Linked DNA regions of Homo sapiens. The protein of the gene in region 1 interacts with the protein of each later gene in a pairwise test. Each region holds a gene or a part of one and is shown on either strand. Other genes may lie near its edges.

The links.
Region 2: the proteins of SPG7 (region 1) and KHDRBS2 interact in binary tests that used the Homo sapiens proteins (3 or more experiments, as listed by UniProt).
Region 3: the proteins of SPG7 (region 1) and PSTPIP1 interact in binary tests that used the Homo sapiens proteins (3 or more experiments, as listed by UniProt).
Region 4: the proteins of SPG7 (region 1) and RBPMS interact in binary tests that used the Homo sapiens proteins (3 or more experiments, as listed by UniProt).

What each region holds. Positions count from the first base shown.
Region 1 is NC_000016.10:89,524,558-89,532,402, forward strand, and holds part of SPG7 (mitochondrial inner membrane m-AAA protease component paraplegin isoform 1 precursor), read left to right. Parts: intron 1-1,771; coding exon 1,772-1,911; intron 1,912-4,919; coding exon 4,920-5,022; intron 5,023-6,125; coding exon 6,126-6,251; intron 6,252-7,346; coding exon 7,347-7,509; intron 7,510-7,845. UniProt on the Homo sapiens protein: Catalytic component of the m-AAA protease, a protease that plays a key role in proteostasis of inner mitochondrial membrane proteins, and which is essential for axonal and neuron development.
Region 2 is NC_000006.12:61,891,059-61,898,903, reverse strand, and holds part of KHDRBS2 (KH domain-containing, RNA-binding, signal transduction-associated protein 2), read left to right. Parts: intron 1-4,070; coding exon 4,071-4,269; intron 4,270-7,845. UniProt on the Homo sapiens protein: RNA-binding protein that plays a role in the regulation of alternative splicing and influences mRNA splice site selection and exon inclusion. Binds both poly(A) and poly(U) homopolymers. Phosphorylation by PTK6 inhibits its RNA-binding ability.
Region 3 is NC_000015.10:76,997,705-77,005,549, reverse strand, and holds part of PSTPIP1 (proline-serine-threonine phosphatase-interacting protein 1), read right to left. Parts: intron 1-7,845. UniProt on the Homo sapiens protein: Involved in regulation of the actin cytoskeleton. May regulate WAS actin-bundling activity. Bridges the interaction between ABL1 and PTPN18 leading to ABL1 dephosphorylation.
Region 4 is NC_000008.11:30,387,183-30,395,027, reverse strand, and holds part of RBPMS (RNA-binding protein with multiple splicing), read right to left. Parts: intron 1-7,845.

The DNA.
Region 1 (7,845 bases):
CTCAGCCTCCCGGGTAGCTGGGATTACAGGCGTGCACCACAACGCCTGGCTAATTTTTGTAGTTCTAGTAGAGATGGGGTTTCTCCATGTTGGGCAAGGCTGGTCTCGAACTCCTGACCTCAGGTGATCTGCCCACCTTGACCTCCCAAAGTGCTGGGATTACAGGCGTGAGCCATCGTGCCCAGCCAGATCTGGTAACTTTAGATTCCAAGAGTGCGTCAGAACATGTGCTTGGAGCAATTTAACCCAGGGTAATGTGTGGACCAGTGATTAGGAAAGTGGTCTGGGGTTGGTGTGGCCCACCCCCGGGTCTGGAAATGACCGTGGCCTCCACCAGAGCTTCTGCCCCTTTGCTGGGTTACTCAGGATTCAGAATGCTTTTTCCTTTTCTTTTGCTTTTTTTTTTTTTTTTTGGAGACAGAGTCTCCCTCTGTCTCATCCAGGCTGAGATGCAGGGGTGTGTGTGATGTCGGCTCACTGCAGCCTTGATCTCCTGGGCTCAGGTGATCTACCCACCTCAGCCTCCCCTGTAGCTGGGATGGCAGGCGCGCACCACCACACTTGGCTAATTTTTAAATTTTTTGTTTTTTTGGAGAGATGAGGTCTCACTATATTGCCCAGGCTGGTCTTGAACTCCTGGCCTCAAGTGATCCTTACACCTTGGCCTTCCAAAGTGCCAGATCACAGGCGTCAGCCACCACGCCTGGCGCTGTCTTGCTATTTTTAAAAACAGGAAACCTTGTTCTTAAAATACACCATGGCTAAGTGCAGAAGACGGTGCTCATTCACGTAAATCCTCTGGTGGATGCCTGATTATTTCAGTCTGGAAGGTTATTTTAACCTACAACACTATGCTCAGCTCTAGACGAGTCACCTGATAAAACAGCTGCCTTAAAGAGAAAATGCTCAGAATTCTGTCTTAGCAGTTTGGGGTGTGAGTGAGGGAGCAGCAGGTGCCATCCCCACCCCTCATCCCTGTCCTCTGCTGGAGTTTCCAGTTAACCTCAAAGAGAGTCCCGCAAGTCCGTCTGTGTCCTCCCTTTGGGGTGTTGCCGTCCAGTCATGCTGAAATCTGAGCTAAACATGCGGAGTTTACTTAGGAAAACGCTGCGTTTGGAGAATCGTGTGCCAGGGAGACGGACCTGTTGGTGTCCTGGTGTGAGGGATGAACAGTCTCAGGTTTTGTGGTTAAACATGAACCCTCTGTGGCCGCAGTTTCCTAAAACATCTGTTTTTGGCCGTAGTCTTGATTTTGCCATCCTCAGTCCCGTGCTGCAGCCTCGCCGGCCTCTGGGGGGCTCCTGCTGTGTCTGCAGGTGTAGCTGAGTCTGAGGCACACATCAGACGTGGGGCTGTGAGCTAACTTGCAGACATCCCTCCATTTCTTAGTTTTCCTATGAGTGGAAAATAGAAAGTCTATCTGTTGAAATTTTATTTCTCAAATTGTGGTTGAGGAAACAAATTTTTTAGACTTGGAAGTACAGATGTTCCTTGAATTAGGATATTTTCAGCTTCCCAGGGGCTCACTGGGAGGTAGCCCCATCGTAGGTCAAGGAGCTTAGTGTGCATATTGCTTTTACACCATTGTAAAATGGAAAGACCGTAAGTGGAACCGTCGTACGTTAGGAATCACCTCTAGTTTCTGAATGGTGTCCTCTTCACAATGCTGAGGTTGTCATTACCATGAGTTCCAGGCGGGCTCTCTGTTGACTGTAGGGTTGCTCGTCTGTCCCTGCGTTTCTCATGGTCCCCTCTCCTTTCTGCCCCCCAGCGGCTAGCCTTGATGTACCGAATGCAGGTTGCAAATATTGACAAGTTTGAAGAGAAGCTTCGAGCAGCTGAAGATGAGCTGAATATCGAGGCCAAGGACAGGATCCCAGTTTCCTACAAGCGAACAGGATTCTTTGGAAAGTATGTTGGATGTATTTGTTGATGCTTGAACTAAACCTAACTTGGCTTTGTAATCTGAGAAACAGATTGCAATCAAAAATCTCAAACTGTCTTTGCCTATAGTTAACTAGACTTTTTAGTGGGAGGGTTAAATAAATATAGAAGTGAATGATACAATGCCAGGAGATTTGGAAATATAGTTATCCCTGGGTATCCATGGGGGCTGGTTCTCGGACTTCCCAAGGATACCAGCACCTGAGGATGCCTAAGCCCCTGGTGTAGGATGCTGAAGTCTAAGCCCCTGATGTAGATGCCGAAGTCTCAGCCCCCGACGTAAGATGCCGAAGTCTCAGCCCCCGACGTAGGATGGCGAAGTCTCAGCCCCCGACGTAGGATGCCGAAGTCTCAGCCCCCGACGTAGGATGCCGAAGTCTCAGCCCCCGACGTAGGATGCCGAAGTCTCAGCCCCCGACGTAGGATGGCGAAGTCTCAGCCCCCGACGTAGGATGGCGAAGTCTCAGCCCCCGACGTAGGATGGCGAAGTCTCAGCCCCTGGTGTAAAATGCCGAAATCTTTGTGTGTAACCTAAGAACATTCTCTGATATGCTTTAAATCATCTGTAGGTTGATAATAATACCCAATACCCTGTAAATACTATTTCAATCGTTGTTATACTTTAGGGAATAATGACAAAAATGTGTCTGTGCATGTTGAGTATAGATGCACGTTTTTCCCCAGATACATTCATTCTGTGCTTGGTTAAACCTGCAGAGATGAAACCTGTGGCTGTGGAGGCCAACCGTGTGCAAGTCCGTTGGAGTTTGTTTAGTCACTTTCTTTAGTTGTGTGGCGCTTCTGAATTCACATTCTTGTATAATTTTCACTGACTGTGCTCTTTGATGAAAGCTTCCCAAATGGTCAGAGTGAGTGTGCAGATGCCGGAGATACCTAGTGATCTGGCCAGCCTTGTGACAATAACAACGTTCAGCTTTTTCTATTTTCAGTATATTTTGTTTTCAAAAGTAAGCGATCACTTTCAGTTAGCAAGGCAAGATCAGCCTAGCAGTAAGAAAGAAAGTCAAGGAGGACCGTGATAATGTCCTGGGCTTGCTCTCTTCTACAGACAGGAAAATGGAACGGGAAAAGGGTAGACACAGGAAGGTGAAATTCTCATTTCAGTGTTGAGAGGGAAACAGACCAGGTGGGAGCTGTCAGCACGTATGGACCATGGACCCTGACAGGTTCCTTAGTAGGACAAATGAGGGGCCAGCGGGTACTGAAACAGAGGTTTATTGTTGACTTGTAATCTCTGAAGATGTAGAATGCCAGTGACTGGCAAGTACTCCCTTGATCAAAATGTACCTCTAGCCGGGTGCAGTGGCTATGCCTGTAATCCCAGCACTTTGGAAGGCTGAGGCAGGGAGGATCTCTTGAGCCCACAAGTTCGAGACCAGTCTGGGCAGCATGGAGAACCCCATCTCTACAGAAAAAAAAAAAAGATGCACCTTTAATTCTATAACCCAGCAACACCTGGAAGATCACTGCTCTGAGGCTGTGTGTCTCATGTCTTTGTAGGCCAGTGATGTACAGAAGATGGAGGGTTGGGGCAGGCCCATTCTCGTGTCTTCGTAGGCCGATGATGGACAGAAGGTGGAGGTTTGGGCCGGGCGCGGTGGCTCACGCCTGTAATTCCAGCACTTTGGGAGGCCGAGGCGGGCAGATCACGAGGTCAGGAGGTCGAGACCATCCTGGCTAACACGACGAAACCCCGTCTCTACTAAAAATACAAAAAAAATTAGCCGGGTGCGGTGGCGGGTGCCTGTAGTCCCAGCTACTCGGGAGGCTGAGGCAGGAGGATGGCGTGAACCCGGGAGGCGGAGCTTACAGTGAGCCAAGATAGCACCACTGCAGTCTGGCCTGGGTGACAGAGCCAGACTCCATCTCAAACAAAAAAAAAAAAAAAAGAAGAAGATGGAGGTTTGGGGCAGGCCCATTCTCATGTCTTCGTAGGCCGATGATGTACAGAACAGAAGATGGAGGGTTGGGGCAGGCCCATTCTCGTGTCTTTGTAGGCTGATGATGTACAGAAGATGGAGGGTTGGGGCAGGCCCAGGGCAGCCCCTCCTCAGGATGAGGGCAAAAGTCCTGGGATTTGCTTTTTTTTTTTTTTTTTTTTGGAGTCAGGGTCTCACTCTGTCGCCCAGGCTGGAGTGCAGTGGTGCAATCTCAGCTTACTGCAGCCTCGACCTCCCAGGATCAGTGATTCTCCCACCTCAGCCTCCTGAGTAGCTGGGACTACAGATGCACACCACCACATCCAGCTAAGTTTTTTTGTATTTTTAGTAGACACAGGGTTTATTCTTACATTTTTCTTTTCTTTTTGAGATGGAGTCTTGCTCTGTAGCTCAGGCTGGAGTTCAGTGGCACGATCTTGACTCACTGCAGCCTTCACCTCCTAGGTTCAAGCATTTCTCCTGCCTCAGCCTCCCAAGTAGCTGGGATTGCAGACGCATGCCACCATGTCCAGCTAATTTTTGTATTTTTTTAGTAGATATGGGGTTTTACCATGTTGGCCAGGCTGGTCTCAAACTCCTGACCTTGTGATTCACCCGCCACGGCCTCCCAAAGTGCTAGGATTACAGGCGTGAGCCACCGCGCCCGGCCTGAGATTTGCTTTTTACTCTTAGGCTGATCTTGCCTGCCTGATTGAAGCTGATCGCTTACATTTGAAAACAAAATATACTGAAAATAGAAAAACCTGAACGTTGTTATTGTCACAAGGCTGGCTAGATCTCCGGCATCTGCACACTCAGTCTGACCATTTGGGAAGCTTTCATGAAAAAGCACAGTCAGCGAGAATGAGACGAGAGAACCCATTTCCACAACCATTTTAATCTGCGCATCGGTCCCAGACGTAGGGATTCCTCGTCTCATCTTGGAAACATTGCCAGCAGTGGTTCTGATTTGGAAGCCTGCGTCTGTCACGTGACACCGTCTGAGCCTGTGCCTGCCTCTCTTTCTTCCGGCAGTGCCCTGTACTCTGTGGGGATGACGGCAGTGGGCCTGGCCATCCTGTGGTATGTTTTCCGTCTGGCCGGGATGACTGGAAGGGAAGGTGGATTCAGTGCTTTTGTAAGTTCTGTAAATCAGAGCTCTCTGAACTCTTTCTGGTTTGTGTTTGCTGAATACTTTTCCCATAAGCTATACGATGAATACACAGGGAAAACCTGTTGCAGAGAGTAGCCTGAAGCCACAATTAGACAGCAGCTCACCTTCCTTTCCCATGGTCCGGCTGTAAGGCGTGTAGTAACCAATGTTGCCTGAGGGCCTCTCACCCCTAACTCTGGGGTGCCTGAGCCTTGTGAGATTACAGGGCAGTTGAATCTGCGTTTTTCTTTTCTTTTTTTTTGAGACGGAGTTTCGCCCTTCTTGCCCAGGCTGGAGTGCAGCCGTGCGATCTCAGCTCACCGCAACTTGCACCTCCCGCATTCAAGCAATTCTCCTGCCTCAGCTTCCCGAGTAGCTGGGATTACAGGCACGCGCCACCACGTCCAGCTAATTTTGTATTTTTGGTAGAGACGGGGTTTCTCCATGTTGTTCAGGCTGGTCTCGAACTCCCGACCTCAGGTGATCCTCCCGCCTCAGCCTCCCAAAGTGCTGGGATTATAGGCATGAGCCACTGCACCTGGCCTTTCTTTTTTGTGTGTGTGTGTGTGTGACAGAGTCTGGCTCTGTTGCCCAGGCTGGAGTGCAGTGGTGCGATCTCAGCTCACTGCAACCTCTGCCTCCTGGGTTCAAGCGATTCTCCTGCTTCAGCCTTCCAAGTAGCTGTGACTACAGGTGCCTGCCACCACACCCAGCTAATTTTTTTGTATTTTTGGTAGAGACAGGTTTCACCGTGTTAGCCAGGGTGGTCTCGATCTCTTGACCTCGTGATCCGCCCATCTCGGCCTCCCAAAGTGCTAGGATTACAGGCGTGAGCCACCATGCCTGGCTGAGTAATTTTTTTTAAAGCAAATTGCTAGATAAGTTTCTTACTAATTAATGACGAAACATTTCCCTTCTGTGCTTGAAGACTGACTGTGAGCCTCGTCAGCCTGACATGAGTGAAGCCTTGGGATCCTAGGATGGAGACGTGGGGTTGGGGCGGCTCAGGTGCGTGGGCTGAGCGCTGGCATCGTGCTGCTGATTTCCTGACTTCGCCCAGCTCCTTGCACTTTGTTCTTTCTGCACAGAATCAGCTTAAAATGGCTCGTTTCACCATTGTGGATGGGAAGATGGGGAAAGGAGTCAGCTTCAAAGACGTGGCAGGAATGCACGAAGCCAAACTGGAAGTCCGCGAGTTTGTGGATTATCTGAAGGTGAAAGCAGCGTGGGCCGGGAGGGAGGTGTGAGCAGAGGCCGGCCGTCCTCCTCTCCCAGAAGGGCTCCTGCGGGACCTGGAATTCCATCGATGACGTGTCGTGGGTTGGCGGTGACCTCTACCATGTCCCATGGGGACACCAAGCAGGTGCTGGTGCCTGTTCAACCAGCAGCACAAGCCTCGTGCACATGGTTCAGCCAAGCAGAGGCTGCCAAGACCCATGCCTACTGTGCCGTTAGCCGTCCTGGGCCCTTCATCCCTTGCAAAGCTCTGTGCTTTTTCCAGAACCACATAAACACCTTAGCCAGTTGGTGGCAGTGCATGAGCTGCCTATCACGTGCGTCACTTACACGTTTCCTCCGCGGGCCTGGTACGGTGGGTCGCACCTGTAGTCCTGGCACCTCGAGGGGCTGACATGTGTTCCCTCTGCAGGCCTGGTACAGTGGGTCACGCCTGTAGTCCTGGCACCTCGGGGCGCTGAGGCAGGGGAGTGACTGAGCCCAGGAGTAGGAGATCAGCCTGGGCAACAGTGAGACCCTGTCTCTGCAAAACATTTTTTTATTTAATTAATTTTTTTTTTCGAGACAGAGTCTCACTTTGTCACTCAGGCTGGAGTGCAGTGGCACAATCTCGGCTCACTACAACCTCCACCTCCCCAGTTCAAGTGATTCTCCTGCCTCAGCCTCCCGAGTAGCAGGGATCACAGGCGCCCACCACCATGCACGGCTAATTTTTGTATTTTTAGTAGAGACGGGGTTTTTCCATGTTGGCCAGGCTGGTCTCAAACTCCTGATCTCAAGCTACGCGCCTGCCTCAGCCTCCCAAAATGTTGGAATTCCAGGTGTGAGCCACCGCACCTGGCCTGCAAGAAGTTTTTAAAAGTAGCTGGGCGTGGTGCCACATGCCTGTATATTCCCAGCTACTCGAGAGGCTGAGGTGAGAGGGTGGCTTGAACCCAGGAGTTTGAGGCTGCAGTGAGCTATCATGGCACCCACTGCACTCCAGCCTGCGTGACCCAGAGAGACCTTACCTCTAAAAAACAAAAAAACGGAATCCCCAAGTAGTTAGTGTTGCATTGTCTGCTGCCGTCCAGAGCCCAGAACGCTTCCTCCAGCTTGGCGCCAAGGTCCCAAAGGGCGCACTGCTGCTCGGCCCCCCCGGCTGTGGGAAGACGCTGCTGGCCAAGGCGGTGGCCACGGAGGCTCAGGTGCCCTTCCTGGCGATGGCCGGCCCAGAGTTCGTGGAGGTCATTGGAGGTAGGTGCTGTGGTTGGGGGCTGTGGGTGGGCTTGGCTGACTACCTGGCTCCTTTCACACATCCTTCCTCTGGTGTCTGGACTGAAAGGGACACGGGTGGGTGGGGGAGTAGAGAAGGAAAGCGAGGTCTGGGTTGGCGGAGGGGTTTTGTCTGCGAAGCACATGATGTTTGCTTCAAAGCCACCGTCACTTGTGGCCTGGGGGGCCAGCACGGTGCGTGTGAACCCTGAGGGGTGGCCAGGGGCCCCCGCGAGCAGCTGCCGTGTGTCTGTTTGTAGGGAATGGAGCTGGTAGCTTTAGTTGTCCTTGGTGTAGAACTTTGTCTGGCCCGGGTAC
Region 2 (7,845 bases), on another chromosome or scaffold:
AAAAGAGTTAGATATTGTTTCACATAATTCCATTTCATCTCAATTTTTTCACCTCCCTATTGCTCCTAAATACCTCCCTTAAAAGTATTAAGTAAGTATGATAGTTGGTATATGTGTTGACCTTGTGCATTTTTTAATAAGTAAATTCTTATCGATTGAACCCTTTTGTGCATGAAAGTATAGTAGAATGAATAAGCAGAAAAGCTCTAGAAAGAGAATGCCTGGGTTCTAAATCCTAGTTCTCCCACTTACTAGATGTTATTATATTTCATCAATTTAAGGATTCATGTTTTTCACATTTTGACATCTCAAAGTGATTGTCTTCTTGACATACATGGCATAGTCATAATTTAACTCAGTGTTTTCTCTCATAGTGTTAAGATAAAATAATTGTGTATCTCATAATGAATGAGATAAACAATAAGTTAAAATGTTGACCTTGGATATGTTATGTAATTATATGTTACAATTTAATTAATACAATAATCACTTAGAGACTTACAATAAAACATTAAATGTATTACATGTAAAGACATTTACAACTGTATCGGATATTTAGTAAGTGCTCGATACTATATATTTGTTATTGCTTGAAAATTAAAGATTGGTCATACCAAATGCCCACAAAAAAAAAGAAAATAGCTTTACAAAATAGAAAATCTTATTAATAAGAGAACTTTGCATAACATGAGTTAACAATTCCTAATTTGAATTGTTATGAAATTATTACTTTATGAAGTTATTTAATTACACTTATATTCAAAAAGATGATGTCTAGAATATTTTAAGCTCTATAATTTGTTGAAAGTGTATTTAATTAAAACAATTTACATTTCAATAATCCTATCTATGATAACTCTAATTTTCCAATAATAATGTATACCAGAGAACAAAGCATTACATCTATATATTGTAATAATAATTTATTTTGCATAATTGATGAATGAAAATATATGACATCTCTAACACACATCACCACTATATGTTGCAGTGAGTGCAGTCACTGAAAAACGAAACATCGGGGTAAATTTTGAAGGCTTTTGTTTACCACGTTGAGAACGAATACATAGAACTAATAGAGTTTGTTAAAGAGGAGAGTAGTCATATTTGTTTATGCGAAAGACTACTCAATTATCACTGTGGTTGATGCAGAAGAGTTACAGTGATTGAGAGAGAGAGAGAGAGAGAGAGACAGAGACAGAGAAACCGTCTTATGGCAGGGGAGCCAATGAGAAAACAATTCCATCATCCAAGGCAGATAAAAATGAGCAGCATTTGGAATAGACAGGGATAGGGCCAGATTAGAGATTAACATTTATATGAATTAATGCCAATTAAACGTTGGAGAAGAAGAGTTCCCCAAGAGAAAGATAAATTTTTGGTGTCTAGCCTGGTGAGAAATTGATGATATCATTAACTAAGAGTAGGTGAAGGATCAAATTAAATGAAGAATATAATTATTCTTGTAAATAATCTGAGCTCTGTGGATTGCTGGTGTGACCTTGGGCAGGTGACTTGTTCTCTCCATGCCTTAATATCTCAATGTATTTTTAAAAAACTTAGAACTGCCCACATGACAAGCTTGTCAAGATGCTTAAATTGGAGTATTCATTTAAGGCAGTGGTTCCCAAATTGGCCTGTATTTTGGAATCACTGGGAGCTCCCTGTCTCCAGAGATTGTGGTTTAATTGGCCTAGGGTATGGCCTGGAATTTGGAATTTTCAAAAGATCCTCAAGTAACTTTAACATGCAGGCAAGTTAAGAAACTTCTGATATAAGGAACACAAGCCAAGATATGGCATTATGTTAGGAAGAAAACAGATTATAGCCATCATCAGAGGTAGGGATTGCAGGGTGCAACCATGAGATCGAGGATAGAAACTGGGGACATCCAGATTCCAAAGTGGGTCCAGGAATACAAGCCAGTGAAGGAGGATAACGAATAAGGAGGAATGAGGAAAAGTAGAGAAAAGCAGAGTCATAAAAGTCCAAAGAAACATTTTCCAGATAATAGTCCACAATCTTAAAAATAGTAGAAAGGTGCTGTGGCATGGAGACTGTAAAGAAATCTAGTGGATTTGGAAATCAGTAGGCTACTGGTGATCTCAGCCAAGAGCATTTTCAACAGAGGGGTGAAAGCAAGAACTAGACTGATAACATTCAGTTCAGGAATGTAGAGGAAGTAAAGAATTAAACAGAAAATATTCTTTCAGCAAGTCAGACAAATAAACGACAGGATACTGTGGTGTGGTTTTAGCCAGGGGCAGTATCCTAAAAAAAGTGATTTGAATTAAATTGGAGGAGAGAACAATGAGGTTAATATTCCAGGGAAAGAACATAGTGGATAAGAGGTAATGAGTCAGGTTCAGGAGGCAGGTTTGCTAGGGCTGTGTCTGGTAGTCAGTTGATGAAGGAAGAAAATGGAAAATTAGATTTGATATGAGCATCATATAATATTAGAGCAGAAGGAAGTACTATAAATTTAGAAATCTGCATTTTACTCATTAGAAAAAAAAATATCTATCTTAAGCCTAGGTAGTTATAATACTTACCCATGACTATTCAAGGGTATAGCGAAGGCTCGTGAATAGAGTAGGGTGACCATATAATTTATTGCCCACACATGGATATTTTTGAGAGTGTTAAAATGCTAAACTGAACAGGAAGCTAGGACAACAGTTATAAAACCTGGACATATGCTCATCTTGCTTATGAGGAAACAGAAATGTGCTTGGAGGAGCAGTGAAGGCAAAATTGGTTTTTACATCCCTTTATGTATTATCATGGTAATACAGAATACTGTATTCTTAGCCATGTTGTACTTGCAGCCAGCACTGGGCCTCTGGGTCTTTGTGTTTCACCTTCTCCCAATCTAGGAGAGTATTCTTTATACATTAGACTCACAATAAATTCTCTCATCATTTCTCTATTCATCAGCTCTGTAATCTATTTAAAAATTTTAAAGGTTTTGCCAGCATTCGTACCCTTCACTTATAAATGCTCACTTTTATTTTAAGCAAGAAAGAGCCATCTGACTGCTATTCATAGCAGACAGCATAACCTATGTCCCCATATGTGCCTACAGCCAAATACTGTGATTGTTGACATCTCAATGATCATCATTTTTTTCCCCAAAGCTTTAGTGTTCCCACTGAAAGCAGTGCTATCTAGAGGCCAACCTTTCAGACAAAATAAAAAGTGAAATAACTGTTCTTTTGCCCAAAGACTTCAGACAAACACTCAACCATTCTAAAGGCTTCAAAATGCCATAAAAATTGGCCACAACCATTTGATCTTACACTTTTAGTGCAAGTCAATTTTGTATCAAGAACTGCAATACAGAGTATTCAGTCTGTTATTTTTATTACAGATACTAAAGTATTCCTCTAACACCATAGTTATGGTTAAGAAAATATATTCTGTCAGGGACTGCACCAGTTCAGGGGGTTACAGGCATGATGATAAATCAGTGACAAAGAGTTGTGATTTCAAGTAATCTCAAACTTAAGCAGCTATAGTAAACAGAATGATATCACTATGGTTAGATTCCCACATTTTATTTAAGTGCAGCCACCTTTTTTTTTGGTAAATGACAGCATTGTCCATCACTATCTGTAATCCCCAGCATAAAGGAGATGCAGACATCTGAAACCGCTCAGTTTCAGAGATGGTCCAGTGAGTCATATATCAGACGATGCTCTGATTTGTGTCTTCTTCGAGAATTTGGAATTTAATGGGGTTATATTCAGAGTGGGTTTTTGTTTGGGTTTTTTTTTTTTTTCTGGCTTTGGGTTTTTAGTTATATAAAAGACAATAACAAAGTATTTTACATGGTTTTTATAAGAACTAATCATAGTCAGTGTTTACAATTATTGTCTTCTATAGATATCAACACACTTTATATCTTATATAATTTCTATTAAATGCATACACACACACACACACAGAGAGAGAGAGAGAAATTTGTATTTATTTCATTGTATGGAGGCTGTGAGATGAAAACTTTTTCTGTGATAGGCCCTTTTCTCTCATCACCTGTTTCTCATCTATACATGACTTGTTTCTCTTAGGGGCCGTGGGGGTGCCATTCCTCCTCCCCCACCACCTGGACGAGGTGTTCTCACCCCTCGGGGAAGCACTGTAACCCGTGGAGCGCTTCCAGTGCCACCTGTAGCAAGAGGTGTCCCTACCCCTCGAGCCCGGGGGGCACCAACAGTGCCAGGATACAGGGCACCTCCTCCTCCAGCCCATGAAGCTTATGAAGAATATGTAAGTACTCTTAAGAAATAAGTTGTAAGGATGAGTTAAATTGATTAGTTAACAAGCTACGTCTCAAACTGTTCATATACCGTGAATATAGCAGGTAATGTTTGTTGCAGAAACGAATGTCATTTACAACAGAATTTAAGCAGTGCATTTAAATGAGAGCATTTTGAGAAAAGGTTTCATTTTACAGGTGTCATCACTGTTAGTGCTAGTTAAAGAGCTTGTATTTTAAGAACCAAACTTATCCTTAGGAAGTTTGATCAGATTTCAAATGAGAAATAATTATAAACAAAAGGTGAATTGCCATGTATTCAGAGATTTCTGGAACTTGACAAAGATTAGCATAAAACTCAGAAATATTTAACAAATATAATATGATTATATTATAAACTTTGGGAGTATTGTAAGACCGTGTGGCTGGTCTTTCATTTATATATCCTGACTCTTTCTTTCACCATATTAAAGATGTGGATTGGCATAAAAAATTCAAAAAAATATACAATGAATAGACAAAATGCAGTGTTTCCAAGCATCCCCCTCCCTTCCTATCTACTGTATCTTTTGGTCATCTTATGTATCTAAACATCTTTTAACCTTTAGTTCTGATTGTCAGTATTCCACTAATTACATTGTGGTCCTTGTGTCCATTTCTCCGACTAGATTGTGAAATATGTAAAAAGGGAAAATTTACTAATAGTGTAACAATAGGAAGTCTTCTGTAAATGTTTTTTTTTTTATTATTATACTTTAAGTTTTAGGGTACATGTGCACAACGTGCAGGTTTGTTACATATGTTTACATATGCCATGTTGGTGTGCTGCACCCATTAACTCATCATTTACATTAGGTATATCTCCTAATGCTATCCCTCCCCGCTCCCCTCACCCCACAACAGGCCCCAGTGTGTGATGTTCCCCTTCCTGTGTCCATGTGTTCCCATTGTTCAATTCCCACCTATGAGTGAGAACATGCGGTGTTTGGTTTTTTGTCTTTGCGATAGTTTGCTGAGAATGATGGTTTCCAGCTTCATCCATGTCCCTACAAAGGACATGAACTCATCATTTTTTATGGCTGCATAGTATTCCATGGTGTATATGTGCCACGTTTTCTTAATCCAGTCTATCATTGTTGGACATTTGGGTTGGTTCCAAGTCTTTGCTATTGTGAATAGTGTCGCAATAAACATACGTGTGCATGTGTCTTTATAGCAGCATACTTTATAACCCTTTGGGTATATACCCAGTAATGGGATGGCTGGGTCAAATGGTATTTCTAGTTCTAGATCCCTGAGGAATGGCCACACCAACTTCCACAATGGTTGAACTAGTTTACAGTCGCACCAACAGTGTAAAAGTGTTCCTACTTCTCCACATCCTCTCCAGCACCTGTTGTTTCCTGACTTTTTAATGATTGCCATTCTAACTGGTGTGAGATGGTATCTCATTGTGGTTTTGATTTGCGTTTCCTTGATGGCCAATGATGATGAGCATTTTTTCATGTGTCTTTTGGCTGCATAAATGTCTTCTTTTGAGAAGTGTCTGTTCATATCCTTTGCCCACTTGTTGATGGGGTTGTTTTTTTCTTGTAAATTTGTTGGAGTTCATTGTAGATTCTGGATATTAGCCCTTAGTCAGATGAGTAGGTTGTGAAAATTTTCTCCCATTCTGTCAGTTGCCTGTTCACTCTGATGGTAGTTTCTTTTGCTGTGCAGAAGCTCTTTAGTTTAATTAGGTCCCATTTGTCAATTTTGGCTTTTGTTGCCATTGCTTTTGGTGTTTTAGACATGAAGTCCTTGCCCATGCCTATGTCCTGAATGGTAATGCCTAGGTTTTCTTCTAGGGTTTTTATGGTATTAGGTCTAACATTTAAGTCTTTAATCCATCTCGAATTAATTTTTGTATAAGGTGTAAGGAAGGGATCCAGTTTCAGCTTTCTACATATGGCTAGCGAGTTTTCCCAGCACCATTTATTAAATAGGGAATCCTTTCCCCATTGCTTGTTTTTCTCAGGTTTGTCAAAGATCAGATAGTTGTAGATATGTGGCATTATTTCTTAGGACTCTGTTCTGTTCCATTGGTCTGTATCTCTGTTTTGGTACCAGTACCATGCTGTTTTGGTTACTGTAGCCTTGTAGTATAGTTTGAAGTCAGGTAGCATGATGCATCCAGCTTTGTTCTTTTGGCTTAGGATTGACTTGGCAATGCAGGCTCTTTTTTGGTTCCATATGAACTTTAAAGTAGTTTTTTCCAATTCTGTGAATAAAGTCATTGGTAGCTTGATGGGGATGGCATTGAATCTATAAATTACCTTGGACAGTATGGCCATTTTCATGATATTGAGTCTTCCTACCCATGAGCATGGAATGTTCTTCCATTTGTTTGTATCCTCTTTTATTTCATTGAGCAGTGGTTTGTAGTTCTCCTTGAAGAGGTCCTTCACATCCCTTGTAAGTTGGATTCCTAGGTATTTTATTCTCTTTGAAGCAATTGTGAATGGGAGTTCACTCATGATTTGGCTCTCTGTTTGTCTGTTATTGGTGTATACGAATGCTTGTGATTTTTGCACATTGATTTTGTATCTTGAGACTTTGCTGAAGTTGCTTATTAGCTTAAGGAGATTTTGGACTGAGACAATGGGGTTTTCTAGATATACAATCATGTCATCTGCAAACAGGGACAATTTGACTTCCTTTTTTCATGATTGAATACCCTTTATTTCCTTCTCCTTCCTGACTGCCCTGGCCAGAACTTCCAACACTATGTTGAATAGGAGTGGTGAGAGAGGGCATCCCTGTCTTGTGCCAGTTTTCAAAGGGAATACTTCCAGTTTTTGCCCATTCAGTATGATATTGGCTGTGGTTTTGTCATAGACAGGTCTTATTATTTTGAGATATATCCCATCAATACCTAATTTATTGAGAGTTTTTAGCGTAAAGTGTTGTTGAATTTTGTCACAGGCCTTTTCTGCAACTATTGAGATAATCATGTGGTTTTTGTCGTTGGTTCTGTTTATATGCTGGGTTATGTTTATTGATTTGCTTATGTTGAACCAGTCTTGCATCCCAAAAACAGTCCAGGACCAGACAGATTCACAGCCGAATTTTACCAGAGGTACAAGGAGGAGCTGGTACCATTCCTTCTGAAACTATTCCAGTCAGTAGAAAAAGAGGGAATCCTTCCTAACTCATTTTATGAGGCCAGCATCATCCTGATACCAAAGCCTGGCAGAGACACAACAAAAAAAGAGAATTTTAGACCAATATCCCTGATGAACATCGATGCAAAAATCCTCAGTAAAATACTGGCAAATGGAATCCAGCAGCACATCAAAAAGCTTATCCACCATGGTCTTCTGTAAATATTAAATTTAACTGATGCAAGCCAGATCATTGTACTATGAAAATGATTTATTTTGCCTTTAACCTCTCCAGCATGTCCATCTCCTGATCTAGGTATTTGTTTCATTCAACTATCCATAAACATGCTGTCCTCTTCAATGTCTTATGTAAATTATTGCTCATTTAAATGTAAACTCTTCAAATATAGTTACTGTCACATACTGGGCACTCAAAACATATGG
Region 3 (7,845 bases), on another chromosome or scaffold:
AAAAATTGTTAAAATGGTCAATTTTATGTTACATATAATTACCACCACCCCCAAAACTTCTAACCTCTGCTCACTCAGGTGAGTCAAATGAGGTCAGGAAAATGGTAAAAACCAGATGTATGCCTATTGTCAGCAATGGTAATTTTTGTTTTGTTTTGTTTTGATATTGAGTGTTTGCTCTTGTTGCCCAGGCTGGAGTGCAGTGGCACAATCTTGGCTCACTGCAACCTCTGCCTCCCAGGTTCAAGCAATTCTCCTGCCTCTGCCTCTCAAGTAGCTGGGATTACAGGCATGCACCACCATACCTGGCTACATTTTTTGTATTTTTAGTAGAGACAGGGTTTCACCATGTTGGCCAGGCTGGTCTTGAACTCCCGACCTCAGGTGATCTGCCCACCTTGGCCTCCCAAACTGCTGGGATTATAGGCATGAGCCACCATGCTTGGCCAGCAATGGTAATTAATTACCACAATTATCTATGTTGATGCCTCTCAAGCTAAAGTTCCACATGGAGGCACTGGGGAACTTTGAAAAATACTGATGTCCAGGTCCTACCCTCAGAAATCGGGGTGTAATTGACCTGGGGTGTGGCCTGGGCATTGGGATTTTTTAGAATGACAGTCCTACAAGATCTGGCTCTCTGCTTCTCTTTTCTTTCTTTGTTTTTTTTGTTTGTTTGTTTGTTTGTTTTGAGACAGTCTTGCTCTGTTGCCCAGGCTGGAGTGCAGTGGTGCGATCATACAGTCACTACAGTTTCCAACTCCTGGGCTCAAGTGACCCTTCCACTCCAGCTTCCCAAGTAGCTGAGACTACAGGTGTGCACCACCAGGTACAGCTAATTTTTGTACTTTTTTTTTTTTTTAAGAAGTGGTTTCACCATGTTGCCCAGACTGGTCTTGAACTCCTGGGTTCAAGTGATCTTCCCACCTCAGCCTCCCAAAGTGCTGGGATTACAGGTGTGAGCCACCACGCCTGGCCACTGTTCTATTTCTTACCTTATCTCCAACTACTCTCCACCTTGGTCACTCTCTCTAGCCACGCAGGCATGCTCTTGCCTCAGCCCATCACCCCCTGACTTCCTCCCCAGTGTGGCTGTTTCCCGTTCCTGTTTCCACAGCTGGGAAGCCCTGAGTTCCATCTGGCCACCACATCCCCACACTGGCTGCTGGTCTCCAGGGCTCCAGCTGGCACTTCCTGTTGCCCAATGGTGGGTGGCCTGTCAACACCAGTGGAAGGAGCTGTCGCTCTCCTGCCTGTTCCATCACCCATTGCTCAGTGTGCCAGGCCTCAGCAAACCAACACACCCTCCCATTAACTGCAAAGGGCTCTCTGACCCAGACCTGGGAAGGTGGCATCCAGGCCCAGCCCAGTCCGATCCATCTGTGTGGCATCCCCCAGGCCCACATTCCTTCCAAGAGGCTCAGTTTCCTCTCTGTAAAACAGGAATAAGAATACTGACCTCACAGGACTATTGTTGGAATTAAGTGAGATAACATAGATCATCTTGTTACTTGAAACCAAAGGAATGATTCTCTAATGGTGGAGTATAACATGCAATGGTGAACATGATTGGAGGAGGCATTCTGAAACAGCAAGATCTATGTATAAGGCTCACCCTATGGGTGCATATCCAATTATAAATCTGGGTCCCCTGGGAACTGTTCCTGGTCTGCTACTCCACTGTGGTGAGCAGGAGGTGGTCCCTTAGCACTGCCCTGAGCCGCCCCAACCTCAAAGCCCTTATCTTAAGTGATGACGACCCTGACATCCTGCAGATGAGGAAACTGAGGTTCAGAAAGGGAAAATGATTCTCCAAGGCCACCTAGCAAGTGTGGGTGAGGGTTGGGTGAGGCTTCAAAGAAGCCCGCTTCCTTCTTCTTCTTTTTTTTTTTTTGAGACGGAGTTTCGTTCTTTTGCCCAGGCTGGAGTGCAATTGTGAAACCTCAGCTCACTGCAACCTCCACCTCCTGGGTTCAAGCGATTCTCCTGCCTCAGCCTCCTGAGTAGCTGGGATTACAGGCATGCGCCACCATGCCCCGCTAATTTTTTTGTAGTTTTAGTAGAGACAGGGTTTCACCATGGTGGCCAGGCTGGTCTCGAACCCCTGACCTCAGATGATCCACCCGCCTCGGCCTCCCAAGAAGCCGATTTCCTTCTAAGCCTGGAGGATGGAGCATGACTGAGTCTGTGAGGGAGGAACCTTCCAGAGCCAACCCAGAGGAGAGTCCTGGTGTGGGCAGCCCAGGGCCCAGGGCATCATGCTCTCTAGCTGGAAGCAGAGGCAGTCTTGGTTTCCACCCAAAGTTCCCTCCATCATGTGGTTTGCAGCGTCAGCCAGGCTCTGGGTGAGGAGGAAGGGCATCCCACTCACAGCCCGCAGCCTCTGTCCTCTTTTGCATGAGAGGAAACAGCCACCACCAGAGAGGGTGCAGAGAGGCAGAAGAAAGTATCTCTGCCACCACTTAGGGCAGAGACCTTTCACAATCCAGCTCGTGCCTTCCCTTCCTACCAGTCACCTTGCACAATGCTCTGGGCCAGAAAACTGTCTTCCAAACCCCCTTCCACACCTTTGCCCATGCCGTACCTCCCACCTTGAGTGCCGTTTGTCCTCCTGACATGTCTCAAATCCTCACCCACCCTTCAAAGCCCAAAGCAAGGCCCTCCTTCTCCATCCCAGGGGCTGCCCTAGTTCTGTGTAGATGTCAGGAGCAGCCAGGAAAAGCATGTGGGTTCCAGGGGACTGGAGCACAAAGTGGGTCATCAAGAAGCAGATCTTGTTTTTTATCAAGAATAAAATTGAATTCAGAACACCAAATCGACCCAGAACCCTGCAGCCAGCAAATCCTGGCAGTGACCATCTGCAGGCATCGCAAAAGCAAAGCAAGCATGACCACAAACCTCTGCAATCTTCTAACACCTGAGCAGCCGGCCACGTCCTGTGGAATGGGCACAGATGAACGAAGTTCTTGGTCCCCAGAGGCCCACGTACCACAAAATATGCACCGAGCATGTGGAAAAGGGCATGCTAGCAAACCACAAATTTGGCCTAGAAACACCAACTCATTCTTGAAAGCAGGAATTGCTTAGTTTTCTTTTTAAATATTTTCTTTTTAATGACAAAGGTACTCTGTATTGACTTGCAGAAAATTAGATGGGGGATGGAGAGAATCCTACTTCCAAATCCATAGACACCAGTGTTAACATGTAGGGAAGCATCCTTTCATCCTACACAAATTAAAGTAGAAGCAAGAACAAACTCTCTAGAATTCAGGGCAGAGGGCAATAGAGTTCGACAGACCTAGGTGGGAGTCCCTGCTCTACCCTGCACAGGTGACCCTCGTCTGGGCCTAGACCTGCCGTGCCTTAGGTCCCATCACAGAGTCAGGAAGACACTGACAATGCGTTTGGGGGCATGTGGACTGAATGGCAGCATGCCTGGCATGGAACAGGCACTCAGCAAATGGCAGCATTGCTGCTCCTCAGGGGATGATGTAAGTAGCTGGGATTCAGGGAAAAATTCTTCATGGGACTTGAAATAAATGTCCTCTTTTTCATTTTTAATTGTTTGATTTAATTTTTGAATAATTAATACATTCATATGGTTCAAAAATCAAACAGTATAAAAACATCAATCCTGAAAACGTTCACAGCCGCTCAGCCTCATCCCTCATCCATCTCCTTTCTCTCATTCTCCCAACAGGCAACCACTTTAATTAGCTCCCTGTGCATCCGTCCACAGATTTTTGTTGTTAATACTACAAGCCTGCGCCAGTATAAATGCTTATTTCCCCACTTTTCACAACGGGTTGCCGACCAGGTGCACTGCCAGGCTCTCTGCTTTTTACAGGGAACACCAGGTCTTAAAGAGCTTTCCCAATCAGGAAAGGGAGAGCCTCCGTCCTCACTGCTTCTGACAGATGCAGCCAGGCAGGTGCCGGGAAGGTACTTGGTGGCAGCAAAGGCAGGATGGCCAGGGCCTCTCTCTCCCACCTCCTGCACTGTCTGCAAGCTCTGAGTGCACCAGGGCCACTCCTCAGCCACTGGCCTCCTTGGCCCTCAAAGCCACAGCAGTTTGCTGGGCTGCAAGGCCTTCCACAAAGTCAGTGCAGGCTCTGGTTTCCAGCAGGGCCCCATCCACAGGCCCTGACCCTTCCAGGCCATTCTGGGGTCCCTCCTTCCTGTGTGAAAAAGCTCCTGCCCAACCAGAGGACTATGGGGGATCCCAAAGTGACTGCTAGTACCCATGGCTGGAGAACTGGCCCCACTCTTTCACCCAGAAATGCCTCCTTCCCTGGAAAATAGCCATTAGCCTCCTCTGCCCAAAGAAATAATCCCCAAGTGAAAAACCTTTATAGTCAAAGATCTACCCATGGTGTCACTGTCCAGAATAATAAATAATTGGCAGTAACCTAAATGTTCAGCAGTGGAGGACTGGGCAAAAAAAATCACAGCATGGTCACCAAATTCACAAGCTAGAGAACTGTGCAGCCATGAACAGTGGTGTTGCTGAAAATGAGGAACCCATGTCCACACCCACAGGTGTTCCCGATGGAGTGAGTTACGCTAAAAAAAGGGGAGGGTGGCAAAGTGTGAACAAACCTAGCGCTACTGAACCATACACCACAAAAATGGTTAAGATGGTACATTTTATGTGTATTTCGCTACAATTTAAAATAAAATTTAAAATACTAGAAAAAAAAAGGAGGGAGGGCCGTGCATGGTGGCTCACGCCTGTAATCCCAGCACTCTGGAAGCCAAGGCAGGAGGATTGCTTGAGCCCAAGAGTTTGAGACCAGCCTGGGCAACACAGGGAGACCTCATCTCTGCAAAAATAAAAAATTTGTAAAAGAAAGGGAAAATACAAAATTATGTACACAATATGCTTGCACCTATGTAAGGCAATCTTATGCAAACACAGCATAATATTAGCAGTTGTGTGATGAGACTAAAGGTGCTTCTTCTTTTCCTATTTTTCTCCATTTCCCCACTTTCCTTTTAGGATCTTATATTAGTTGATTTTGTTTCTTTAGAAAGTGTGTGTGTGTATGTGTGTGTGTGTGTGTGTGTGTGTGTATATATATATATATATCTCTCTTTAAATGCCCAGGATGGAACAGGTGCCCAGCAAATGTCAGGCTCTCCTGATGCCCCTGGGCCATGGTAGACAGGTCTGGGGGTAGGGACAGGCAGCTTTATGACAGATCAGAGTAGGGCCCCTCAGTCCCCTTCTCTGTAGCCTCATAAATGGGCACCTCAGCATCTCAGAACTGGGAAGGGAAAAGGCACCAGTGGCTGAGTGCCACATAGGGAAGGGGCAGACCAGCCCAGCTGGTCCCACTGTGTGAAGCTGGTGAGTCACTGCCCCACTCGGCAGCGGTGCTGTCACCTGTTAAATGGGCTTGGGGAGGCTCAGCTCCTCCCAGTGTGGCACAGGGGTTTCTAGATAGAGCCAGAGCCCAGCCTCAAAGGAGAGATACACCCACATGTCAAGGGGAAAGTTCAGGCCTATTGTCCCCATACCCCCTTGGTGGTTCCCACCCAAAGGGTGGGTGACAGTCACTGCAGTGCATGTGACCCAGCCTCCCCAGGTCCTTACTTTTCCTTTTAACTACCCTAAAAGGAATAGGATGTGGATCTCAATAGAATCTGGTCCAGAACTAGATTTTCCCTCTTAAAACAATATCTAATGACATCTTTGCAAAGGCCATTGGATAGACATACAGGTTGCGGGGGATGGGGGACCTGGGAGAGGATGGCACAGTTGAGATACTGCTCCTCTCAGAGCACTCCTTGCCTGACCCAGTTATTCCTCCAGCCCCGGCACTGAACTATGGCTTCCTTCAGGTCAAGACAGTTTCATTCATCTGATTAGATGTTGCAGGGTGAAGAAGCTCAGGGGTCCAGCGTGGACCACCTAGTAGACAGCCCTACTCACCAAATATTTGCAGAATATAACAAAAGTGAAATGTAGTGCTGGGCGCGGCGGCTCACGCCTGTAATCCCAGCACTTTGGAAGGCTGAGGCGGGTGGATCATCTGAGGTCAGGAGTTCGAGACCAGCCAGGCCAACATGGTGAAATCTCATCTGTACTAAAAATACAAAAATTAGACAGACGTGGCGGCGCACGTCTGTAATCCCAGCTACTCGGGAGGCTGAGACAGGAGAATCACCTGACCCCAGGAGGCGGAGGTTGCAGTGAGCTGAGATTGTGCCACTGCCCTCCAGCCTGGGTGACAGAGTAAGATTCTTTCTCAAAAAAAAAAAAAAGTGAAATGAAGTAAAAAATGGGTTCAGGAAGGGAGATGGACCATGGAGACATTCACTGTCCATTCATTTATTCTATGAACACGTCCTCAGCCAGTACCCCACTTGTCAGCCCTGTGCAGAGGATACAGACAGACATTTCTTGCAATAATTTGGCCACCTGCTGGGAGTGGAGCCACGACAAACTGGGGGCAGGGGGAGGACCCTTCCTTCTCTGGGCTTCCCAGCGCCTTAGACTCAGTGCTAGGCCAGTGCCCTCTCCGCTCAGACAGCTGGTATTCTCAGATTCAACCTTGTCTCACTGACAGGTCCCACTCTGAGGCTCATTTACAAACTTCCTGCCAAGGTGTGATGCTCTTTATCATCTGTGTGTATCACAGAAATCACATTATCCCTTCCCTCCCTCTGTGGCTGGTCCGCCCTGCCTCACTCCTACAGCAGCGTGCATCTGAACACTCGGCTGCAGCTAAAATCAGGCTATAAATAAATACTGTGTGGCCACACTGACAAAATTGCAAAAACAGGCCGACTGAGGGACAGGACTGTGTCTGCTCCCATGCTGAGTGTCCCCACTACTTCTGTGCCACTACAGCTGCTTTTCAGACTGTTTCTGTCTCCTTCCTTGCAATCAGGCTGCTAGCTGCCTGTGAAACGTCCTTTCGTAGTCCAGGTCCATCAGCATTTATCCATCGCCAACTGTATATCAGGTACTGTGCAGACTGCCACTAATTGCTACATCTATAGGCTAAAAGACCCCATGACCAAGCTCATTAAAATTGTGGGTGAAATTAGAGTTCATAGGACCTGAGTAAAAGCTAGGGGACATCTCCTAGGAGTGTAGTATATGAGCTTTAAGGAAAGCTCTTAGGGAAATCATCTTTGGCTCCTGAGAAACCACTTTTGCTTCCTCCCTTACTGTGAGCTAAAGCCAGAAACAGCAGGGCTGGCTCCCCTCCTCCGCCCCGTGTTCTGTATGGGTGAGGTTGCCCAATAACTGAGGGGCTGTGATATCAAACATGATCTTTCCAGTTTAGCCAAAGTAGGGTCCCTCCACTCTGTCAGCTCTGTCACCCAGGCTAGAGTACAGTGGCACAATCTCAGCTCACTGCAACCTCTGCCTCTTGGGTTCAAGCTGTTCTCCTGCCTCAGCCTCCCAAGTAGCTGGGATTACAGGAGCATGCCATCACGCCTGGCTAATTTTTGTATTTTTAGTAGAGACAGGGTTTCACCATGTTGGCCAGGCTGGTCTTGAACTCCTGACCTCAAGTGATCCATCCACCTTGGCCTCCCAGAGTGCTGGGATTACAGGCGTGAACCACTGCACCCCGCCTAAAAACCAGTCATTTCTAAACAGTGTGCTGGCAGGCTGAAGGGTTTAATGACAGTGCCTTGGGCTGGGGTGGGGGAAGGCCCAGACATGGGCCAAGCTGGCTGGGCTGTTCCTAATATAACACCTGTGGCCAGAGTAGTGTGCCTTTTCTGTTTTACAGATTTGTCTACAAATGAAGCTTCAGAATATTGTTCTAGCCACCTTGTCTGATTTTCTTACCCCTCTGGGAGATAAGAGGGGTTACCTCTTAT
Region 4 (7,845 bases), on another chromosome or scaffold:
TAAGACCAGCCTGGGCAACACCACAAGACTCCATCTCAAATAAAAACAGGTAAAAAAAAAAAAAAGAAAAAGAAAAAGAAAGAAAGAAAGATAAATAAATTTTAAAAACGGTCTCAGGGTTCACTCTAACAATTCTTTTGCTTATTACTGGGAAAAGTCTTGGAGGTCCTAGAAAAAGAATTTGGCTTGGGAAGGTAAGAGGAGAGCAGTGGATGATCTGGTCTGGGAGTAGCTGACTAGATTCCAGCCCTTTGCTGATTTTCTTCCTTCTACTCAGATAAGCAAGACCCTGAGGGGCAGCAAGTACCAGTGGTTTCAGTCCCCTGTCACCAGGCATCCTGCAGCAGGCACAGGACGGAAGTACATGTCCTCACTCCCACCTCCCCAAACACATCCTGCCTGGCTGGGAGGGATACTGTATTTAAAAACAGATGACTCTTTGGAAACTCACACATTTTAAGTCCCGTAAATCACACATGCTGGGTAAAGTAATTACACTTTTGTAGCACTTCCCCTCTGAGCACAAAGGAAATTCTGCTACTTCTGTAATTAGATAGCACTTTCTGTGTACACTTTCTCCCAGGGGGGGCCTCCACTGTCTATCCTATAGGTGGGCGTAAGAGGAATTTTCACAAAACAGGATCCTGCGGATTCAAGAAAAAAAAAAATTGGGTAGTCTTTAGGATTTCTCTTAGAACAACATTGGCCACTGCCAGCCTATCTACCCTGGTGACATGAGAATCTGGGAAAATCAAGAGGAACGTCACAAAAAAATCAACTCATGAGAAATAAAAGTTAATTAAAAGTAAAGTTGTCCTATAACTTATTTGCAGAGGTTGGTGAGCCAGACCTCATTTTGGAGATTCTCAGATGTCTCCTACCTTTGCAAAACCCTAAAGGCTGACAGAATGGAACTGGCTAAGCATTCCCTTTGCATTTTAAATTTGTGTAACAATACTGTATTACAACCTGGAATGTGAATCCATCTTCTCGGTGTGACTGGCATTTATCACTGCCATTTCCTTTTTCTCTTTAGCATTTACACAATATGCACCGTCACCATAATAGGTGCAGTAGAGTTAAAACCTAAGAGAAATACAAATGCAAGTTGTTTTCTTTTTAAGTTCCTGGACTACTTTGAGCTGACACTTAGCTGGGCTGAAAAAGGCAGCAAACTTTTAAAGTATAAATTGAATAAAATGAAAATATGGCCAGGCATGGTGGCTCATGCCTGTAATCCCAGCACTTTGGCAGGCCGAGGCGGGTGGATCACCTGAGGTCAAGAGTTTGAGACCAACCTGACCAATATGGTGAAACCCCTGTCTCTACTAAAAATACAAAAATTAGCCAGGTGTGGTGGCGTGTGCCTGTAGTCCCAGCTACTTGGGAGGCTGAGGCAGCAGAATTGCTTGAACCCAGGCAGTGGAGGTTGCAGTGAGATGGCGCCACTGCACTCCAGGCTGAGTGACAGCGCAAGACTCCGTCTCAAAGAAAAAAAAAAAAGAAAATGAAAATATAACCCACAGATTAGATGTCTTTGGGCTGCTGGCCAAAGGCTCATCCTACTCTTCCTTTTCCCCAAAAAAGTCAAAAAAGATAAAAGCAACTTAGAAATTTTTTCCTGTAAAAAAACTCACGCCTCTCCAGATTTTATGGTAGCTTGATCTTTCCTTTTAGGTGCAGGGTTGGCAAATGGAGAGTTGGAGAAGTAAAAGCCTGGGAATTAATGGCAAGTTTGGGAGGTTTATAAACAGGTTCCTGAGTTTTGAGCAAAGCAAAAAAAAAAGCATATGAGAAAGACCATATATCAGATTTTTCTAAGCTCCCCCTCAGGCTTTCCAATGGCTAAGTATACCAAACCCTTTAAAAACAGGCAGATTATATGTAATACATTTTTATGTTCCTAAATTAATTTTTAAGTTTCCATTTTTCTTGATTATTTTCAATTCTCTCCCCTTCCCAAACACTTTTTAACATGACTCTAAATTTTCACTAAATTTTGTATCTCTTTCCTTGCTAACCCTCACAACGTTTCCTAGAAAGCAGGAATTCCATTTTCTGGGCACTCACTCCCAGTATGCACGCTTTCAATTATCAGCTCTATGTTCTTGAATTGTTCTGAAAATCGTATTTCAAGATCAGACCTCTCCTCTGCACCCCAGACTCAGTAACATCTTCATCTCCTAGGTACCTTCTTTTCTTACCCTTTCCACATCTCTATTTTCTATTCCTACAAATACAACCGTCACTTAGCTAGCCACCCGAAGGAGAAACCCAAAAGGCTGCTAGGCTGTCTCCTTGCCTTCTCTCCCGCACATCTGACAGTTATCTAGGCCCTGAACACCTGGCATCTCTGCCTCAGTTGCCACTGCCAGGCTGCTGCCTCACTTTGAGACCAGGACTCTTGCAGCAGAAACCTCACTGCAAGAATGGTTCTCAACAACTTTTCCAAAATTCGCCACATCCCCCTGCCCATTGGGACGTCCTAGATTGCTGCCTTCTGGGGCACATCCACCCTGGTGCCCCATCAGAGGACAAAGTCCAATTCCCTAATGCAGAGGCAGCTCTTCCACCCACTGTGGGCCAGTGCCCCCTCCCCAGTTTCATTCTTCCTTCCCCTTCTTCTCTCCTGCCATGCCTTGCTTGCTCTTCCCCAAAAGGGTCTTTTGAAGCCTCTGTGTGTTCATTCACAGAGCGATTTCCTTGCCTAGCCCATCTTTTCCCCACTGTCTGAACCCTTTTCTCATCAGTCAAAATCTTAACTGAGATTTAGCTCATACGTCATCTTTAAAGAACTGACTCTTTAAACTTCTTTAAAGCTTTCTGTGACACAGCTCCATCCCTTCCTTGCAGGTTTGGCTGTGCTCAACTCAACTACCTCTACTTTAACCTCGGGCGTGGTTATACCTGTTTGTTCATACAGGGGCATCACCATTAAACTGTGAGCAACTTTAAGACAGGAACTGCCTCTCTCAGATCTTGGCATCTCTAGAATCTGCACATGAAGACCCTGGCTCCATAGCTTTTCAGGGCTTCAGCCACTTCCCCATCAAAGCAGCACAATCATCATAATCCCTTCATCAGCTTGGCACATAGTAAATACTCAATAAAAGTTAGGAGATAATTATTTAATGAATAGATAAAAAGATTTCTGACAATTCTGCAGGCTAAAGATTTCAGTATTTCCTTTTTCCTGCTATCAGCAACACTGACAAGCCAAGCAGCTTTCTTCTGATACCACAGACATATCCCCTTTACTCAGCTTCATGTTTCAGATAATATCAAGGACCTCCCACCTCCACCGCCAAACATAGAAAATATAGTGCAATAAAATTGTTTACAATATTCTCCTGGTACACTTTAGGGATGTGAGTGTGAGGAGTTATCCCCATATGACAAATAAGCTCATCCCCACCAGGGGCATGGAACTGACTTGTTCATACCAACATAGCATCCATTTTAAATACCTGGTCCCAGATGGCCTCAAGCCCACTGAGCTATGCAGCCACTTCTGCACCAGCTTTTAAGGTTCATTCTCCTCATTCCTTCCTAAGTTTTTTTCTTTGACCAAAGCAAGCACTGTTCAAGAGGAACATTTGCATTCCCTTTCCCCTACCCCCAGGCAGACACTAAGGTGCCAAATGAAACTGAACACAAACATTCCAAAGTGGCTGTCACACAGAGCAGGCTTGTTTGGGAACACAGGGAGTCCATGCTCTTCCACCTAACCAAGGCTTCTGGAAGCCCTCGTCCAAAAGGTCAAATGGAATTCCACAGCAGAAACCAAATTCTAATGGTGAAAACCCAAATGCACCTTGGGACAAGCAGTCCCACACTGACAGTGGCTATCTGATGGACCAGGCAGGCTCACCTGTGCTCGCAAATGGAGGTTCCTAATGACAAAGGGATGGAAGTAATTTTCCAGCAGTGGCTATTTGATGGACCAGGCAGGCTCACCTGTGCTCGCAAATGGAGGTTCCTAATGACAAAGGGATGGAAGTAATTTTCCAGCCGATCCATCCACACCTTTTCTAATTCCCCAGTGCAGAGCACAGAAGGGATCCTCAATATTAAACGAGTGGCTGCTTCTTATTACCTGTACAAACTCATAATCACCAACCTCACCAATAAGGCTATTTCATATATATTTACAAAGAATTATATACGTGTATATATGTAAGTGTGGATGTGTGCAGAGGAGATTTACCTGGTGCTGGGGTAGGTGTTGAACATTGGGAATACTGTAAAATGGCATAGACCCATACAAAATAAATAGCTGAAAAAAATAATAACCAGGAGTTAAATGGACATAACAGAAAGTAACTTTTACTGAAATTCTAATGAAAAATCATCTCTATGGGATGGGACATTCAGGTGAGGGGGATCTTGCAAAAATGTAGGCTGAAAAACTTGAATCCTGGCTTAAAAGCAGCTCAGACTAGATCAAGAGAACAGAAGAGGAAGACCTAGGCTTCCTCTTAGCAAAGGGATCACAGTATACAGGTAGGTGAGGGCAATCCCGAACGCCATGTGCGCACTTGACTTTGTGGAGTACCAAGTAGCACTGAAGGATTCGGGGCATTGGAGGGCCCAGCAGTATGGTGTAAGGATGGACTCCAGAAGAGCATCAGAACAGGAGAGCAGCTGAAGATCACTAACACAATCAAGATAAGGGAATGAGTAAGAGAAATACTAATAGTACTAAGAAAGACTATGTCTGAGGAACAAGGCAGACCTGATTCTCACCGCTAGGCTTGTGAGCAAAACTAAATGTGACCAACCTCGGTTTTGTGAATATCACGATTCAAGGAAACCCTCAAAGCAAAAAGACATTTAATTCTTTTTGTTCACATGGTCATTTTCGAAAACTTAAACACCGAAAGGCATCAGAAAGTAAATAGCAATGATCTGTAATCCACCAATTAGATACAATTAATGTTTGGTTTTATGAATGAATATACATTTATTTGAGAACTGGCATCACATAGCATAAAACTTTAAAATCAGTTCTTTTCATTTAATATTACAACATGAGAATAAAAATATAGTCTTCAGAATGTCTGGAGCCACTGAAGCTCAAAGAGGTAAGGACAGGTTCTCCTCTCCAGCCTTTAGAGAGCACGGTGGCCCTGCCAACACCTTGACTTCAGGTTTCTAACCTCCAGAACACAGAGAATAGTATATAACCACATATGTATAATACATAATAAATATGAATTTATATATAATACATATTTTATAATCCATGTATTTTTCTCTTTAAAAACGGAGCCTTTAGTGGTTGCACAATATTCCCCTTCCAGAATTATACAATGATTTAGTTAGCAGTTTCCCATGTTAGATAGAGTGCCTCTGAATTGTCACTGTCATAAGTCACTGCAAAAATCATTCCTATATATAAATCTTTATGATACCGTTTTCTTAGGGTAAATTTCTAAAAATAAAGGTACTAAATCAAAGGGCCTGAACACATTTTGATAGTGTCACTCCTTTCTGAAAAGCTACACTAATTTACATCACCACTGCTCTGCACAAAAGTACCCACTTTATTGCCTTGTCACCAGCACTGAACACTTTTATCCTTAAAGCAAAAATTAACATGAACCTACGAAAATCATGTGAAACCATCTCCAGAAGAGAACTTCCACCCCTTCCAAACTACCCATCTGAAAACTAATGCCACTGGGAATGAAGAAGACTGCAGATGCACACAAGGGTTTATCAGGGAAATGTTTAAACCGCTACTGGAAAAATAACTCAAAAGTGCATGCCATATTGACAGGGGTCATGGAGCATCAGTTGTCACCAAATCCTATTCTACAACTGAAATATATGTTTATTGCATTGGATTGAACTTGGAATAACAGAGATCCCCAATCTTGGTTAAATTGTATAAAACCATTCTGTACTTTCCTGAAGTCACAATGTAGATTGACTTTAATGCTCAATGAAAATTTGAGGTTGCCACATCAAACTGACATTACCCTCTCTGCAGCAATTTTAAGAAATAATTTTCTTTACAACCCCAATATTTTGGCAAAATTAGCACTTTAAAAGAAGGAATGCAAAGTAAAGGTTTGTATTAACCTCAGAAGAACTGACTGTATGATTTCTGCACATCTTTTTGATCAATATTCCAACACTTCCACGTTTTTTGCTTTTTTAGTTTTATTATAAGTACAAGTCAATTCAAAGCAATTTAAGGAGAAATTAACACCAGTGCTTCAATATAATAAAAGGCCTTTTAAAGATGTTTTACAATCAGCCTGAAAAGTACTCAATGACATGGATAAAAGTAGAAATAAAAACCAAATCACATATTTAATCTAAATTTCTATTTTGAAAATTCAGTGACCAACAAATAAGTTACAAGCTATAAGTTAGCTTTATAGCTATAGCTATAAGTTATAAGTTAGCTTATAGCTATAGCTATAAGTTATAAGTTAGCTTATAGCTATAGCTATAAGTTATAAGTTAGCTTATAGCTATAGCTATAAGTTATAAGTTAGCTTATAGCTATAGCTATAAGTTATAAGTTAGCTTATAGCTATAGCTATAAGTTATAAGTTAGCTTATAGCTATAGCTATAAGTTATAAGTTAGCTTATAGCTATAGCTATAAGTTATAAGCTATAAGACAGAAAAGGTCTTGATATATTTGAAAATACTTTAAACTCATCAATTATAACTGATTAGGTAAGACAAATAATTATGGATCTATTATATATCAATTTTTATAAAGTTTGATTGCACAATTAGAGAAATTCTAGGAATCATTTTATCAATTGTAAAATATAAGAAATGACATGATACTCTAAACATATATAAACAAACCTTAAAAATCTCAGTGAGATTTTGACAACTGGTTAGTCTTTACAGGACAACTTGCTTAGGGAACACACATGTATAATACATTGTACGTGTATTACACATGTATTTAATGTAATAATACATTAAAAATCGGAAAGTTAAATGTATCATCTCTCTTACACAACTGGCTAGCCAAATCCTAAATTATTTTTCCTCAAAGTTTTCAATGCTATCCAAAGTAGAAGTATTAATACATGTTCTGCCAAAGTTCTCAAAAACTTCCAACCCTAAAAAGCTGCAAAAATACTCCTAGATCCTGAACTGTTCATTCTACACAATTAGAACCAAAGAGGCATTTCAGCACAATTATTTCAGGGTAAGCATTAGAAACTCTCAAAAGAAGCTAAAATACACTGATTGATAGAAGGAATTCGTTTCGAAACTAGAAACACAGAAAAAAACAAACTTGGGTTCTACAATGTGGAGAAAGCCCAAACCACCCTCATGATCTGTGAAATAAACTATTTTCCCTTAATGATGATTGGACTCATTTTTCCATGTCAGTTCAATGGCTACCAGAAATTACAACGAAACACATTTTTCCTCTCGTCATTACGTGTATATATCTATGTTGTATGTGTGTGTTCTGTTTACTGGAGTCCACCGCCAAGGTTTTTAAATGTGCTTAAGAGCAAGTTGCTGATACAATGGGTGGGCAGGGAAAGGGTCAGTGCAGTGGTTTTGTGTAATGCCGGGCACATTAATGGCACTCACCTAATACTCTATTTATTTTACCTGTGGCTTTCAGGGTTAGAAAGAAAAAAACAAAAAAGAGGTTAAGAGTTTTTCAAGAACAAAATATAAACCAAAAATAGGAAATTAAGGCAAAATTACCTGGATCATTCAGGCCACCTTAGTTTCTTTTCCTCAATTTCTGACATTATAAACCCCCCTCTCTTCACGGTCTTAACTGTTTTGTACACGACATCTCTCTTGGACAACTTGGGTTCTGAAATCTTCCTACGTGTCCCCTTAC